Regions from separate parts of the Homo sapiens genome. Here region 1 is linked to region 2. The links come from fine-mapping of genetic effects on gene expression. A gene starts in region 2. The other region holds a variant in brackets. All regions are shown on one strand. Distances are between the middles of the regions. Region 1 has its middle 170 kb from the start of LINC02533. Region 2 holds the start of CDYL (chromodomain Y like).

Region 1 (8,594 bases), 450 kb before region 2:
ACAATGCGCATCTATTTTGTGAGGCTTAAAAGGGCGTTTTGTCCATGGGAGATGCTAAAAATATTCTTGTAGGAAGAAAGGAAAAGGGGGAAAGGGAAGATGTGATAAAAGGAAGAAGAGAAAAAGGGATAATTCAAAGTACTGAAATAAAAATTTTGGTTAGCTCAAAAAAGAAGTAAAATACAGTATCTAGAGAGCAACAGCACAAAAGAGAAAACAAGCAAATATTCCTGGATGTTTCTTTCTCACCGTATCACCCTGAGTACGTTATTTAACCACTCTGAGTCCCAGTTTCCTCATCTGTAAAACGAGTCTCTCTACAGGAATTTTGTGAGGATCAACAAACAAAAAAGCTTCTGCTGATTCGTGAGGATGCTAATGTCAAACACCATGCACACTCACCACAGCCTAAAACCTTTTCTAAGAGCTTCACAGGTATGATCTCATCTAGTCTTCCAAACAAAACTGTGAAGGAAGTTCCTTCCTCATTTGAAAGAGAAGACTGAGGCACAGACCCTCAGCTAAACCAACAGGTGGCATGCTTGGATTTGAACCTTGCTAGTTGCTCTTGCTCCTTAGTCTGTGTTAAGTACCTCCCTTCCTCACCATCCTATGTTGCAGTAGCTCCTCTTTCTTTTCTTCTTCTTTTTTTTTTTTTTTTTTTTGACTGAGTCTTGCTCTGTCGCCCAGGCTGGAGTGCAGTGGTGCCATGTAGACTCACTGCAACCTCCACCTCCAGGGTTCAATTGATTCTCATGCCTCAGCCTCCTGAGTAGCTGGGATTACAGGTGCAGGCCACCATGCCCGGCCAATTTTTGTATTTTTAGTAGAGACAGGGTTTCACCATGTTGGCCGGGCTGGTCTTGAACTCCTGACCTCAAGTGATCCACCTGCCTCAGCCTCCCAGAGTAGCTCCTCTTTTGACTATTTCACAGGTGCAATGCTCATTCTGACAATTCAAAAGAAATTTGGTTGGCTAAATTGGGCTCTATGCAATTGGGAAGTATCACTGGATTTGACATATCTAGGCTCAGTTCATTGTTAGCAAACGTAATTGATACACACTGAGATCTTGTGATCCAAGCCTGAGAACTACAAACATTAAATCCACAAATGTATTTCAAAGTTCAAATTTTACATTAGTGAAACAAGGAAATATAAGTGTCATAACACAATGGCAGCTTTCCAAGAATGAATATTTTATTGGTGGGGAAAATTGGCCTTTTGGGTCACCTTACTTTAGCTCTTCAAGGATGTACAACTATATAAAATTGACCTTATGTTGTGGTATTGAACAGCTGGGCTATGGAATATTTTAAACCAGCGTTTAAAAATAATCCCATAGAGTGGGAACTGATGCAATCCTAAGGGGAAAGAAAGCTTTGGAGGAGTGTCTGGCTTCCTCTTTTCCTCTTGGCTTGAAACCGACAGGCAGATCTTATCTACTCTGGTTGATTTTCTAGCATTAGGACTTTATGCAAATGGATCGGGGCCTTGTATCCTGAGAGGGAAAGTGGTTCACTGGAAATGTTTTGGCAATCACAGATTCTTCCAGGTGCCTGCCTGAGAATGATTTTCTTACATTGAGAATTTTCTTCCAACTGGGCACAGATGACAGAAGTCTGGACTTGTTTGGAAATATGATCCTATCAGTTCTCAGACATTTTTAGAATATCTACCCAACCCCAGCCTTTCAGCACCCCTGTAATGATCATATTGATTTCATACTTCTAAGTTTTGGGATGTTAAAAATAGGAAGGACTTGAAACCCTTATTGTGGGATTTACTGTTTATTCCTGTTATCTCCTAACTTGGGTTAACATGGATTCTGATGAGAATAATGAAAAGTGAATAGTTTAACCATGTTTAGAAGAGTATTCATTTATTAGACATGCTGCTAAATGTGTCTGATCTCACAGAGATTAATTACTCTTTCTCAGTATTCCTCTTTCTCATGCACACATTCACTTACAAGTTCAGGCTGTCATGTTTTTGCCATTTTCTTGCCGGTGCCTTGCAATCCTAATAAAATGTTTACTAGGTAGCATTTCTCTGGATACAGTGTTGAGCTGAGAACTGACTTGAACATGAATCATGATAATGTTTCTTACTGTTTACATAGCAATGAAGATTATCAGGATGAATGGAGAGAAGCCAACCACCCTCTTTATTCATCACAAAGTCATTCAGCCCTGTTATTTCTCATGCTGAGAGATTTATTGGTAATTTTGCTGCAGATAAGTTGTCTTGAAGGGAGCAAAAACTTTCAGGAATTGAGGTGCTTCTGAATCAGAGAAAACTATGATACGTCATTAACTCTGATACTGAATTATATAGAAGAAATGCAAAAGACTCATAAGCACTTAGAAAAACAGTAATCAGTGTGTGTTGATTATCTCAGCCACGGTATACCTTTTTTTCCACCACACATTTCCGGGGTGATTTGCACTGTATTTTCATATTTAACATTAGGGAAAAGTGTGTTGTGGGTGCTATGGACATGTATTAGCATATTTTAAGATGGTTTATTTGGGCTTTTTTTTTTAACCTAATAAATCCAGTTCATGTGCACACAACATCACTCATGTTTGCTGCTTTTGAAGTAAATTTCATTTTAATTCTTCCAATCAGTCGAAACATTTGAAAAAAAAATAACATGAAAGTTTTGAGCTCGGGAAAGGTTTTTGTTATCATTTTTGTTTTTTTACATTGATCTTAGGTCATTGAGTAGATAATAGGAATACATTTGCTAATGAAGATGAGACGTCAACTGTCCGATATAGTCATCAATCAAATGTCTGGCTCAGAATCAAGACACAGACCCTTCCATCTCCCTACCTGTTTCCCCAGCAGACCTGCAGCAACCCAGATGGTGTTTTTGGACTATTTTATAAATGTGTAATTCATAGAAGTCTACTAATGATCTATTATTTTATACTAGTGGCCAACCTTGGAATTTAGTGTGTAATTTCTGCAGGCCACAATGAATGATTTCTGACAAGAGGTTGTTGTGTTGAAGGAGAAAGAGCAAAGGAAATCTTTCAGAACAATTAGTAGGTTAAGTTACTTGGCTCCCAGTTTGAGATTGAGAAATAATTTTTTAAGTTTTTTCCCTGTCCCATTCCCTCTTTGTGACCTAAAAAACCCCCAATAGCCAGAGAATAAAGACAAAGAGCAAGAGGACTCCTTGTAAGTGCTCCCCCAGAGCAAGTTATCAATTGCTAAATTGGTAGGAGGCATGTGTGCTTTGCACAATCCACTCAACCTGACACTGAGAAACAGGGACCAGATGTTGAGCCAGGGTTTGGGCTCAAGTGCTTAGGTGGCTGGATGTGCACTTTCCATTAAGTCCAAAAGCCTGCTTGAGGAAGTGACCAAGTTGACTGCTCAATCTTGACATCTATTTGAGAATTTATTGGAAAGACCACGGGCAAATACACTTTGTCTGAGAAGCTGTTCCTGTACAGTGGGTTGGAAAGACCCAACTGGAATGTCATTTTCCATGATCTGACCATTTTATACGTCTTCCTCCATGAATAGGAATTTTCGAAAATCATTGGCTACTTCCAACTGCACAACTGTGTGAAGGCCTTGCTGCCAGCACTGAGCATAGGTGTGAGTGTCCAAAGAACAGTATTCTAGTCCCAGGTCTGCCACTAACTCACTTTGACACTTGGCTAGTCTCTGATTTTCTTTGGCCTCGTTTCCTCAGCTGTAAAATCCGGAGGCTGAACTAGAAAGTTCTGCTCTTGCTCTGTGCTTCCAGCATTTCCTACCTTCGATTACACCAGCCAAGAGTTCTTGACAAAAGCCCAGTGCTCCAGCTCCCCTATCCCCAGCAGCTTCTTTGCCTTTCCATTGGGAAGTTTGGCTTTTAAGCCTGAAACAACGTATCAGATCATAATGCTGCTGGATCATCTGAATTATCCATGGCTCCTTATTGCCTGCAGAAAACAAACTTCCTCCATTGTCATGTAAAGTCCCATGAACTGACACCCCACCCCCAGCTTTCCAACCTTATCTTTATTCTTGTTCCTCCAGACTGGCCTGCTCATATTGCCCCAAGCACATTACATCATCTCTGTCTCTGCTTCTTTGATTTCAGTA[T/C]TCAGTGTTCCTGGAATCTTCCTTGTCTTTCTTTCCCAACCCTGTAGGGCAGCACTATGGGACCCAGCCCCACCTTGGCTTCAGTAGAGCTGCTGTTGACTGTTGCATTGATTTATAATCCAATTTCAACTTTTATTCAAGCAAAAAGATTCAAGACAAAAGTTAGTTTGGAATTCAGTAAATACAATGATTATGGACAAGCACCAGCTGTTGGCTCTTTCCCAGGATCTCTACCCAAGAAGCCAGAAGATATTGATGGTTCCCAGAATCTAGTGCAAAAATCATGAGAAATCTTTGGGAAGATGAAATAGAGTGGTTCCAGGTGCAGTGGAAAACATAGAGTGAGAGAGAGCCTGGTATTGAGGAATGAATTTTGAGAAAACTTTCTAGTTATATCTCTCCACCTCTGGCCCTCCCCCTCAACCACATTACTACTCACGCTTTTATGGGGAAATGGATGGTAAGGAAAACAGCAGCAGCAGCTTAGAGCCAGCCAAAGGCAAGAGGCGAAAATTAGGGAAGGCCCAGAGACTGGCTGGGTAAGGAGTGAAAGAGTAACAACAGTGAGAGGATCAGGAAGATCCTGAGAATTCTTTTTTTCTTCATCCTGGATGCCACTCCTGTGTTATCAGTTGCATTCTATGTAGCAGATCTTGGAAGACAGATCTACCTAGCAGCAGGTTTACCTGTGGCAAATAAGTGGGGAGGAGTTGCTGAACCCAGATTGTAAAGCCAGAAGATCCTTCCAAGTCCATATCCCTTCTACTCATTCTGAAATCCAGAATGTATTTAGAATTAGAAGTATTTACTTAGGGGTATGGGCTTTTTTAAAAAAAAGTCAGGGGCTGGGCGCAGTGGCTCACGCCTGTAATCCCAGCACTTTGGGAGGCTGAGGCAGGTGGATCACCTGAGGTCAGGAGTTCAAGACCAGCCTGGCCAGCATAGTGAAACCTCATCTCTACTAAAAATACAAAAAATTAGCTGGGCGTGGTGGCAGGCGCCTGTAATCCCAGCTACTCAGGAGGCTAAGGCAGGAGAATTGCTTGAACCTGGGAGGCGGAAGTTGTGGTGAGCTGAGATTGTGCCATTGCACTCCAACCTTGGCAACAAGAGCGAAACTCCATCAAAAAAAAAAAAAAAAGAGGCAGATTTATTGAACTATAATGTGTATAAAATTTACTTGTTTTCAGTGTTGAGTTTTGACAAGTGGGTGTATTAGTGTAACTACCATCACAATCAAGACACAACAATTTTTTCAGTTCAAGAAGTTCACTAATGACCCTTTACAGAATTCCCGTACCAATACCCCACCCTAGTACCTTTCCCCAGAAAGATAGATCTGTTCTTTATCATCGTCGTTTTGCCTTTTCTACAATTTTATATAAATAGAATCATATGGTAGTGAAAGAAGTAGTCTAGCTTCTTTCACTAAGTGTGATGCATTTGAGATTCATCATGGCATTGAATGTATCAGTCGTTTGTTCCTTCATATTGCTGAATATTGCATGAATATCCCAAAAGTCATTTAGTCATTCACTGGTTGATGGACATTGGAGTTGCTTATAGTTTTTGGCTATTACAAATAAAGCTGCTATACACACTCATGTACAATATTTTCTTTTTCTTGGGTAAATACCTAGAAGTAGCATTGCTGGGTCATATGGAAAATGTAGGTTTAATTGTATTACAGAGTGCTAAACTGATTTTCTACAGTGACTGTACCACTTTGCAGTCCCAACAGCAATGTTTGAGAGTTCCTAGTCAACACTTGGTATGGTCAGTTTTATTTTTTTTTTAACTTTAGACATTCTAGTAGTATGTATTAGTAACATATGGTTTCAACTTGCATTCTTTTTAATAACTAATGATGTTGTGGATCTTTTTGTGGTTTTTTTTTGCCATCATATATTTTATTTGGTAAAATTCCTGTTCAAATATATTTTCTATTTTTAATTGGGTTATTTGTCTTCTTATTCTGAGTTCCAAGAATTCTTTCTATATTCTAAAGATAAATACCTTATAATGTGTATGTTATTCAAATATTTTTCTCCCAGTCTGTGGCATGCATTTTTATTTTCTTAACAATATCTTTCAAAGTTTTCAAGTTTTTTATTTTGATGAAGTCCAATTTGTGTTTTTTCTTTTATGTTTATACTTTTTCGGGCCATAACTAAGAAATATCTGCCTAACTTCAGGTTACAAAGATTTTCCCCTATATTTTTTTTCTAGAAAGTTTATAGTTTTAAGTTTTACTTTTAGGTATTTGACCTATTTTGAATTAATATTTTTATATGGCGTGAGATAAGTGTTGATGCTCATATTTTTCTATATGAATAGCCAGTTATTACAGCACCATTTGTTGAAAAAAAGACCCTGTTATTTCCCTATTGAAATACCTTGGCAGCTTTGTGTATGGTCTATTTCTAGACTTTCTATTTTGTTCCACTAGTCCACATGTTTATCCTTACACAATGACCAAATTGTCTTGATTATTGTAGCTTTGGATTAAGTCTTAAAATTAGGCAGTGTAAGTCTCCCAACTTTGTTCTTTTTCAAAATTGCTTTGACTATCCAAGCTAGATTTTTTACCTTTCATATAAATTTTAGAAGCAGTTTGTTAATTTATATATTAAAAAATTTGAAATTTTGATAGAAATTATATTCAATCTATAGGTCAATTTTGGGGGAAGTGGATATCATAATAACATTAAAGTCTTCCAATGCATGAACATGGTGTAGCTGTCCATTTAAATTAGGTCTTTAATTTCTTCAGTGACTTTTCATAGTTTTCAGTGTACAGGTTTTTTGACCTCTTTTGTCAAATATTTCATGTTTTGGATGCCACTGGAAATCCATTTTGAAAATTTTGACTTCTAATTTTTTTGTTGCTAGAAGATAGGACGTGCAGGCAGATAAGCATAAAGGACTGACATTTTTAATGTTTGAAATAACTGACTGCAGAGGCTCTAGAGCATGCATTCTCAATGGGAAAAATATTGTTCCCAAGGGGATGGAAAAATCTTACTCTTTTAATGTCTAAATCATAGATATACATTTACGTAAGCCAATGCATAAAAGTGTATACATTATATCTGCCATATTAAAATCTTATGCAATGGAGTAATTATAAAAAAATGTTTAAAATACTCCTTAGGGGAGCAATAATTTAAAAACCATTGGGAAACACTGGTTGTTCATAGCTCTTGGGATATATGATACTAAAAGAATACAAGTACTTTGAGTATTTGGGTACTTAATCTCTGTAAATTTCTTATACATTGATCACATTCAGGCTTAGTAAATAGATTTAAATAAGACCTAAGTCAAGACCACATGATTCCCAGAAAAATTAGTTAATACAAATTATAAACAAATTTTAAATGTTGAGCAGCAAGAATTTTAGGTCAGTGAATGCTGGATTTTGTCATATTCCTTTAAAGAGTGTTGGACTGTGTTCTTCCTGCAGTTACATTACTTGCAGATCAGACTGATCCTTTTGAGGCTTGCTTTTCAGGCTTATAAGGGTAGATCCAGAGCAGCCCTTACTCTAAGGCTAACAGTCTCACTACTAAGGTGTGGCCCTTCTAAGGACTCTCCCTATCCAATGCCCTGTGTATTGTGAGGTCTCTTATAATTGATGGGATTGCAAACTCTCCCCAGCCCTGTGAGAACTCCGGGAATTGTTCAACCTATTGCTTCTCAGTGGTTCTTTCTCTGGTGTTGTGGATTTTCCTTCCATGCATGCTCAGATCACAATTTGGCCAAAGACGCCAGGGGACTCCTCTGTTCTCTTAAGCCCTCACTCCATGTAGCTACCACTGCTCCAGGCATCCACCCAGCCAATTCTAGGTGCTTCTGCTTTCTCAAGTTCTGATCTCTACTCCTCACTAGGTAAGACTGCTGGGAATTATTGGGTTTTCCTCCTTGCACTGTAACCTAGAAACGGCTGCCAGGTAGGAAGCTGGTACAAGTGCAGGGCTCACTTCATTTGTCTTTGTTCTCACTGGAGTCATAGTCTTGTGCTGCCTGTGGTTCAACGTCTGAAAACAGTTGTTTAATAGATTTTGTTTTCCAATTTTCTAATGATTTATGGTCGGAGGGCAATTGCCAGCTTTGATAGAACCAAGGAAATATGAGCTCAGAGGAAAAGATAATGACACATTTGAAGAGCACAAATACCATAAAGAAACACAATACACTGAACAAATTATACCAGGCAAATAAGAATTAATTGACCAAAAAGAGAAAACAATTAAAATAGCTTTTACATAGCTTCAAGTAGCCAAGAAAGGATATTCAACATGAAGGTAGAATAATAATTTGAGAAGAACCAACTGAAGTTATTGGGTTTGAGAAAAACAATTTGGTTCCTTCTGAAAGTATTGCAGACCAGATATGCTGAAAAGCTCCCCATGGAAAGCATCTGGATGCTGGATATATTTTTAAATGTTTTAAAATACAATACTGAATCCATAAGTGAGTAAGTC
Region 2 (8,594 bases):
GAAAAAGGTACTGGTATCCACTCTAAGCTTTTAGGGAAGGAAGAACTGGTTGGCTCCCAGTTCAGACAAGGCCCCTAACATCTGAATTAATCTTATAAATGGTTCTGTATGCTTCTTTCTTTTGGGTCTCAGGTTTAAAATGTTCTTTCTTTTGAGTGGGTGATTGAGATGGAAATTCCACCAAGTTTTCTGGAGTAGATACTCTATGACAAGAACGGCATTTAATTTCCCTTCAGCCACTGTGGGTTTAAAACCAACAAACTTAGGTCGCATCTTCATAAAAATCACAATTAAATTTTGGGTTATGGAGGAGGTAACCAGGATAGAATATGCTTTGGGGGTACAAAACTGTTGAAGGGAATCATTATCAGTAGCTTTTCACAGCTACCCAACCATAAAACGCCTTTGGCTCTGAGAATAGTAGTAGCTAGATTTTGGCTTCTTTTGTTTTTTTCTGTCCCATCCCCCATCTCCCCTTGGATGCCTTTGGATTCAAATGTAGATGAAATGCAGATTCTTGGGAGAAAGGAAGACATGCCTGGTTTGGCTGGTGATTGGGAAAAGAGGAGGATCTCAGATTTCAGGTTTTAGTTATCATTCTCCCGAGATGGGAAGAGGCTGTGATTCTTGATCTGAAGAGTCTTATCGTCGGTAGAACTTGCCATCGATGATCAATTGTTTGGATTTGAGGAGGAGAGAATTGAATTATGTTGGCCTACAACAACGGGAGCAGGTCAGGTAAGAATCGTTTATTGCTGGTAGACGTGTCTTTTAATCATGTGTGTATATCGTCTCTCTTGTTGACCACTTCTCTAATCTTTTAAGAGTCATATGTCTTACTAGTGCATGGTATTGTGCTGTATGTATTTTTGCTGCAATCTTCCCGGTGTGCTTAGGGGATGTGATTTCACTTTTATTCTTAAGCCACTGAGAAAATAATAGCACCCACACACGTGGTCATGGAAACTACAGAACTTCACTGTTTCATAAAAGGTGGTGGAAATTCCAAGTCATTAAATAATCTTGGGCATATTTACTTCTGCTATGAGTGCTGGTAAAATGTTTATATAAAAAAGTGACGGAGGAAAGCAAAGTTTGCTTAAAAGTAAGACAAATTGAACGAATGAGGTTAAAATATATATGTATATATAAGCAAAATAGCATTCCATAAATCAGTGAGTTTTAAATGGAGGGCAGATGAAAGGAACAAAGTGGACAATTGAGAACTTCCTCAATTTCTCAGTCGCTAGGTGGATACCCATCTCCTTCGCCAGTGGAAGCCAACTGTCAGAGTGGAGAGGTGGTTGGAACTTAGGAGTATGGCTCACTCCTGCTTTGTTTTAGAGGCTACTGGTGGTTACTCTTAATGTTGTAGACTAAGGATAGCAGCATAAACATTCCAGATTGTCAAGATTGAAAAGCTACGTAAATTGACAAAGGTCTATGTAAATTGACATTTTTGAGTTGCCTTTTTGAGGCTATAATTCTTCCCCTTTTTGTTTCCACAATGGGGAAAATCGCCTTACTAGCTCAATATCTGGATATGTTTGTTGTGGATGTCTATGTTCCTTTCTTTCCCTCTCCTGGGCAACAATGGCAGTTTTGGAGACTCCTTGGAGACCACAGTACCATTACGCACATGGTGGAGCCCCTTGTGAATGCCTAAGCTTGTGGATGTTCTGAAGGGGGCAATAATTGGAGTAATGGTCATGGCGAGAAGTGCTTGTATTTGTATTGGTCCATCATTGCATAATAGGCTTATATGTTATATGTATCTATTTCCTATTGAGGATCTCTTTTTTACAGTTGATTTTTCTTGAGGGATTTTAAACTATCACCTGCCAGTATTTGAGCGCTTGCCGAAGTGTGCACTCAATGCTTTGAGATTTCCCAAATGTATAAAATCCTAGTCCTTGCCTTCAAGGAACTTACAACTTTTGTTGATAAATTGGTAAACCTAGAGAGAAGGCAACAATGAAATGCAGCATATAATGGAAATGCTAAGTGAGAGGAAAGAGGCGCTGTTTGGAGGAGGGAGAGGGAATTGGCTGGGCCATCAGGGAAAGAGGCAGAGCTTGAGGCGCCTTGACCAGTTGATGAAGTGGTGGCTTTAATTTGCGATTCTTGTGCAAACATTTGATAATGGGAATTGGATGTGTAGGTATTGGGCTTTCTCGTGGACACTGAAATTCCATTCATTGAACAACACCTTATTTCCTGTATAGAGAATGGTGCTAGGGGCCAGCGTCAAATTTGAAGATGAAGTCTGACTGAAGGTCATCGTTTGGAGTTGGGGTGGGGTGAAGAGTAGACAAACCTTAAAATACAGAGACGAGTGCTGCAGTGAGCACGCGTGAGTGCTTAGGCAGCGCTTGAAGAGGGAGTTACCGATTTGGCCCTGGAAGTCAGGAAGGCTATCCTTTTAAGGTGATCCCTGAGCTGGGAGTTTGTTTCAAACGGTGGGGACCGCAGGTAGAAGCACCGCTTAAGGGGAACGGCGATTCGACTCGCAGTGACTTAAGGGTTGGCGTGGTGCTTGTTCCTGGGCGTGGGGAGGACAGGAAACCGCGGGGTCTGTGAGACGCCCCGTGGTTGTTGAAACGCTGTTGGGGGGCACAAACGAATAGGGCTTTAGGAAGAAAACTGGTGGGAGGAGCCTTGTGGCTCCAAGGTAGGTTAGGAACTGGAGCGAGATGGAGCACGGAGGAGTGAGGCGGCCCGAAGGATGCCCGGGGAGACATGGAGGAACTGGCGAGGGCTTCCCGATGCAGGGCCTGGGGGAGAGGGTGAACTAATGCCTCTGCAGTGCCCCGTGGGGAAGTTCCGCATACTCGGCCAGAGTGATCGGAGTTGGCGGCTGTCTGGGGGAGTTGGGTCAGGAAGCCCCTTCTTTCGCCACCGATGGGGCACGTCCAGGGCCCGGCAGGTGTGCCCTGGCAGTAGATCTTCCCTGGGAAGTGGAGCGCGGGCCAGCCCTCGCTGTTCTGAGCGAGGGCCTGTCGTGTAGTCCACACCGTTCCGCGAAAGGAACCACCATTGACAGCCTCGTTCGATTAGAACCCGGACCTCCCTGGAATCCAGACTCGGTCCCTTCCCAGCTGCGCTTCGGAGGAGGCGGACGCTCCGAGAGGAACCCAGAGGCCTGGCGTGGGGGGAGCTGCGGGCAGAGCGGAGGCAGCCGCGCCCTCGCGCCGCCCTCCGCCGCGCCCGGCTCCCGCCCCCCGGATCCCACCCCCGGCCTGCCGCGGAGCCAGCGTGCCAGCCGGAGCTCGCCGGGCCACCCCGCGGGGCGCGCGGCCCGGGCTCCGGGTCTTGGCGGCGGCCGGTGGGGCGGGCATGGGGTGGGGTGGGTGCTCCACCTGGCCACGCCGCCGGCCCTTCGCGGGCTGGCCCGGCCCCGGACGGGCGGGCGCACGGAGGCCGCCTCTTGGGCTCCTCCTGGAGGGAGGCGCGCGGTAGACGGCGCGGCCGCTGCCGTCGGGGCGGTGGGCTCCAGACGCGGGCCGGCTCGCTCGCATGGTTCCCTGCCCCATCTCGGGTCCGTCGCTGCCCGTCCTGGTGTGCACAACCGCGCTGCGCCTCGAACCTCGAGGTCCAGGTCCCGCCTGCCCTGGGCCGGGCCGCAAGCGCCCACGTCGAGGCGGGCTGGGGGGCGGTGCCGCGGGCCAGGCCGACCCCGCAAGCGGGACTGGGGAAGTCGGAGCCCCGCCCACCACCCCGCCCCCCGCGCTCGCGGCCCCGCCCCCGACTGCCCCGCTCCTCCCCTTCCTGCCGGCTCGCTCCCGGCCCCGCCGGCCGCCCGCCTCGGCCCCGAGCGGAGCCCACTGCTCCCCTCGGCTGCCCCGCCCCGCCGCCGCCCCGCCCCTCCCGCGCGGGCGGCCCGAAAACCCGGAGCGCGGGAGCGCGGCTCCGCAGGGCCGGGCGGCCGCACTGGGCATGCTCAGTAGCCGGGGCAGGTTTTTTGGTCGCAAGTAGGAAGCTTTCTGCACTACACCGGAGAGGGGAGCCGCGATCCGGCCGCGCCGCCCGCACGCCGCCGCGCCCGCCCCAGCCCGCCCGGCCCCGCGGCGGGGCGCGATGAGCCCGAGCGCGAGCCGGCCCGCCGGGGAGTGAGCGCGGGGCGCCCAGGGCGCGTTGCGTAGCTGCTCCTGCGCACAACCCCGCCGCGCCGCCGGCCCGCACTGGCCGCGGAGTGCAAGAGGCTCGTCCGTGCCCAGCGCCCGGCCGGCCGCGGGAGCAGGAAGCGCAGGCCACGCAGGACCCAACTGAAACAAAGTGTCGGCCGCCCGGCGCCGGCGCCCGCCCCGACCCTGCCCCTCCCGCCCGCAACTCCGCCGCCCACCATGGCTTCCGAGGAGCTGTACGAGGTACCTCCCCTCCCCCCGGCCTCGGGCCGCCCCCCGCCCGCCGCCCCTCCCGGCCCGGCCGCGCCGCCCGACGGCCCCGCTCGCCGCCCGCGCCCGCCGCGTCCCCTCCCCCGCCGCGGCCGCAGTTTGCTGGACGGGAAATGTGTGTGAGGGGAGCCCGAGCCTCCGTTCCGAGGGGCCCCGGCCGGGGGGTCCTGAAGTTGCCGGGCGTGGGGTGGGGGGGGGGGTCCCAGCCGTGGGGAAGTGGTGCTGACACAAGTGACTTGCTCGGACTGAGCTCAAAGTGCTCTTGGCGTGGGTCGTGGAAGTGGTGCCTCCGTTGCCGCTCGGCGGGGACCGTGGGCGGTACGGGGGGTGGGGTGTGGGGGGGTTTCTGGATCATTTGATAAAGCATTTGGGAGAGGGTTTTGCCCCTGGTCGGGGGGTGGCGGGGAGAAGACCGGTGCAAACGCTTTCGACTTTGCTGTTCGCCAAAGCGATGCAAAATCTCGCACCGAAAATGCTAAACGTTGACCACATGCTTTAATTAGGTTAGCATTGTGGCCAGAGCCAGGAAATTTAAATTTAACGCTGATACACCGTCATTCATTTGCGCCGCAGCGTTGCAAATGAGAAGGGCATAGCCAGAACTGTAAGTTCTGGTCGATGGGTTTAAACCAGCTTCAAGTTTGAGAGTTACCAATTTGGATCTTTAGACATGTTTTGTATGTCTCCATGTAACTTCTTTTGACGTATTTCAAAGTAGACTTCCTGGGAGTACAGAAGTTTGGAAGGCTTTCTGTTCTTCTGGATAAATGATTCTCTTGTTTCACATGTATTTATAAATAAGTTCCTAAGAGACTTAAAACTTGCGAAGACTCTCTAGACTCACCTTTATGATGCGTTTAGGGACCTGGGTGTTGAGGGACTTAAGGAAGCATCTGTAACAAGTAGAGCCCTGTGGCCCCAGGGATCCTTTCAGTTGTCTTCTCTTATGGGCGTATTATTGCTGTTGGCATAGAATAGAGCTTTGTTGTCTGCGATGTTAGTCTTCTAGCAACTTTTTTGTTGCTTTTTAAGAGCAAGTGTTTGCAGAAGTTCTCAGGAGGAAGCTGCCATCTGTAGAATTAAGGGTAAGGTTGTTGCTTCTCCTTACATTGTATGTGGTCAGTATACCTTAGCTGGTACTGAAAATGTTCCATTCTTTTCAACCATTTTACACATTAGCTGTGCCCCGCTGTATTCAGGATACTATTTTAGGTCATTTGGGGATGTAAAAGAAGAAAAATCTCCCTGTTCTCAGGAGCTTTCCTTCTAGGAAGGAAAGTGTTGTGTGTCTGGAAGACACAGAAATGGAGGCTAGGATGTTTGAGGTTGAGGTCTTCCAGGTGAAGTCTGTACAGGGGGAAGTACATAGCATGAGGGTATGGGGGATTTTAGTTTCTACATTAGATCATTCTTTGGTTGTTTAGTCATGAGTGTTCACTCTTGGCATTTGCTTTTATGAGTATGATTACATAATCAGTTCCATCAGTGGATGAGAGTAGCACCTTATACGTAAGTTGTATCCTATGTGTGTAAGAATGATTCTGAAGACAGCACATTTCCCATTAGTATATTATGAACTAAGTTTAGTTCCTTCTGTGCTTATTCTATATCTTCAGGTTTCTGTTCCTAACAGAAGTTATTAATGAGTAACATTTTGTACTAAGTTTGTGTTCATTTAACGTTTATTGAATGCTTGCCATATGGAGGTTTCATGGGGAAATACTGAGGTGTGAGAATGGTTCATGCTTTCAAGGAGTGTCTGTTGGGGAGGAAGTAAGTATATTGCAAATAAATGATACACCTGCACAATTGAACTTTTGATTCTGAGTTTTATTTTAGTTTTGGAAAAAAAGGTATTATAGAAGTATAGTTCAGGTGATAAATTTAAGTATGTGTAGTAAATATGTAGTGGTCAGTATCTTTCAAGGCAAAATTTGTAACTTTTCTTTTACTTGTAGGCAACACTGTGACTATGTTACCATTGAAAGTTGACATTGAAAGTTTTGCATGGCAGTTGAGAGCCTAGATTTGGAGTCAGACAACCCAGTTAGTGACTTCCAACTCTATCACCTTGGGTAAATTAGCCTTGAAAGCTCAGTTTCCTCATCTGTGAAATTGGGATCAGTGTTTCCCTTATAGAGCTATGAAGTTTACATGAGAACATATGTAAAGCCCACCCTAAAATTCCCATGGCAAGCACCCAGTAAGTGATGATGATTGTATGGTAACTGGCTTAAAATGCCTCCCTGAAACCTGGTTTTGTTTCTAAAGGTATAGAGTTGTATTGTTTTCATAAAGGCAGTATTATCTGTAGGGCAGAAGTGATACGCAATTGTAAATGAACGCGATAGTCTGACAAGGCTGGGAAAGACACTAAGATGATGTTTTGTGGCCAAGTCAAGGGTTGTTAGTTGCCTTGTTTTGTCCAGTTCTGCCTAAACTGAAATAGAAGTTTTCTGTTTGGCCTCAGGCTCCACAAATCTAGAGGGATATATTGACAGGAGGAAATGTGAAGTCTTGCTTCTTTGAACTCACATGGTCTGGTAGGAGGACAGGTCTGCAGTAACTGGGAACTTGGGTGAGTTACCCAACTGCTGAGCCTTGGTTTTCTCGCCTAAAAGAAATGTCTCCAATACTTAGCATGGAACCTGGTATGTAGTAATAGGTCTTTAGTAAATGTTTAAATGGCTATTGAAACTAGGCTTTGTGAACAAAAAATAAAGGAACAGATCCTGGAAAAGATGGGTAGAGCATGAACCTTGCAAAATTTGAAGAGTTACTATTAGTTGAAGGATGGAATAGATTTACTCCCTACTTTTCCAGCTGCTAGGATTGAGGAAAAACGGATTTTTGATGCGGCGTAGGTTAGAACTTCATAGTTTTCACAAAAAGACAAGCGTCCTTTACATCACGCTTCTAATGTAAAGGGCCAGATAATACATATTTTAGACTTGTGGGTTATATTATGGTCTTTGTTGCAACCACTCAGCTCACCTCATGTAGTGCAAAAGCAGTCGTAGACTCCTATATGAATGTGCGCTGTGTCTCAAACTGCTTATGGATAGTAAAATTCACTTAGTATATTTCATATCATTTTATGTGTCATGAAATACACATTTGTGTTTTTTTTCCAATCACTTACAAATGTAAAAATGATTCCTAACTTGTAGGTTCCACAAAAATAGGCAGTGGGCTGGCTTTGCCCTGTAGGTTGTTGTTTGTTAAGCCCTGCTGTAGGTGATCAACTGTCATAGTCTGTTTAGGAATCTGGGTTTACTCAAGGGTTGGGGATGTATGGAAGTTAGACGGTATTTCTAACTTTCATCCCAGCTCTAGACTTAGAGCTGGAAGATCTGGGTGGTAATCCTCCCTCCTTTCCTCCTTCCTTTCCTTTCTTTCTTTCTCTTTTTTTTTTTCAAGAGTCTTGCTCTATCTCCCAGGCTGATGTGCAGTGGCTTCATGTTGTCAGCTCACTACAACCTCTGCCTCCCGGGTTCAAAGCTATTCTCATGCCTCAGCCTCCTGAGTGGCTGGGATTACAGACGTGCACCACCCCCGCCTACGCCCCCCCCCCCCCGCCCCCGCCCCCGCCCCGGCTAATGTTTTGTATTTTTAGTAGAGACAGGGTTTCACCTTGTGGGCCAGGCTGGTCTCAAACTCCTGGTCTCAAGTGATCCGCCCACCTTGGCCTCCCAAAGTGCTGGGATTACAGGCATGAGTCACTGCACCCGGCCTTCCCTTGTTCTTAGAAGCTTGTTAAGTAACTCATCTTGTACTTGTCTTAACTATCCTAAACTTTCTCATCAGTAAAATAGGAGGATGATAACCAAATAATTGAGGCTTAAATGGCATTAGCGTGTAAAAGCAATTCTACAAAACGTTTTCCATTTTTAAAGAGGAAAAAAAACCCATCCAACTCTCAAACCATGAAACCAAACCTGTTTTCCCTTCCTCAAGATTTAGGATTTGAAAGTATTCTATAAACTGATTATATCACCAGAGAAAGCTGTGAGGTCAAGAGGACCTTAATTTATTTAGCAGTCAAGTAACCACCATGAGACTTTGTTCACGTGGGACTGAATAAGGAACGTATGCTGTAGTAAAATGGAATAAGTATTCTCTTTATTTGTATGTCTTAATAATTCCTTTTTTCCTCAGTAGATGTGGAGTTATTCCCTTGAGAACTCCTGTAATAGTTAA

What was found. PIP is the estimated chance that this variant, and not a neighbour inherited with it, causes the effect.
Region 1: its variant is fine-mapped to the expression of CDYL in skeletal muscle (GTEx, PIP 0.97).

The regions. Positions count from the first base shown.
Region 1 is chr6:4,318,958-4,327,551 of GRCh38, forward strand. No RefSeq gene overlaps it. Among named protein-coding and RNA genes, the nearest start is that of LINC02533, 170 kb to the right of the region's middle. The variant T/C (reference allele first, on the strand shown) is at 4,108.
Region 2 is chr6:4,772,441-4,781,034 of GRCh38, forward strand. CDYL (chromodomain Y like) reads left to right here and starts at 3,964. Exons shown (of 7, transcript NM_004824.4): 1 at 3,964-4,367. The coding sequence starts at 4,344. CDYL-AS1 (CDYL antisense RNA 1) reads right to left here and starts at 2,986. Exons shown (of 2, transcript NR_183279.1): 1 at 2,832-2,986; 2 at 2,086-2,317. RefSeq lists enhancers at 179-730, 2,655-3,308 and silencers at 3,116-3,745, 3,766-4,315.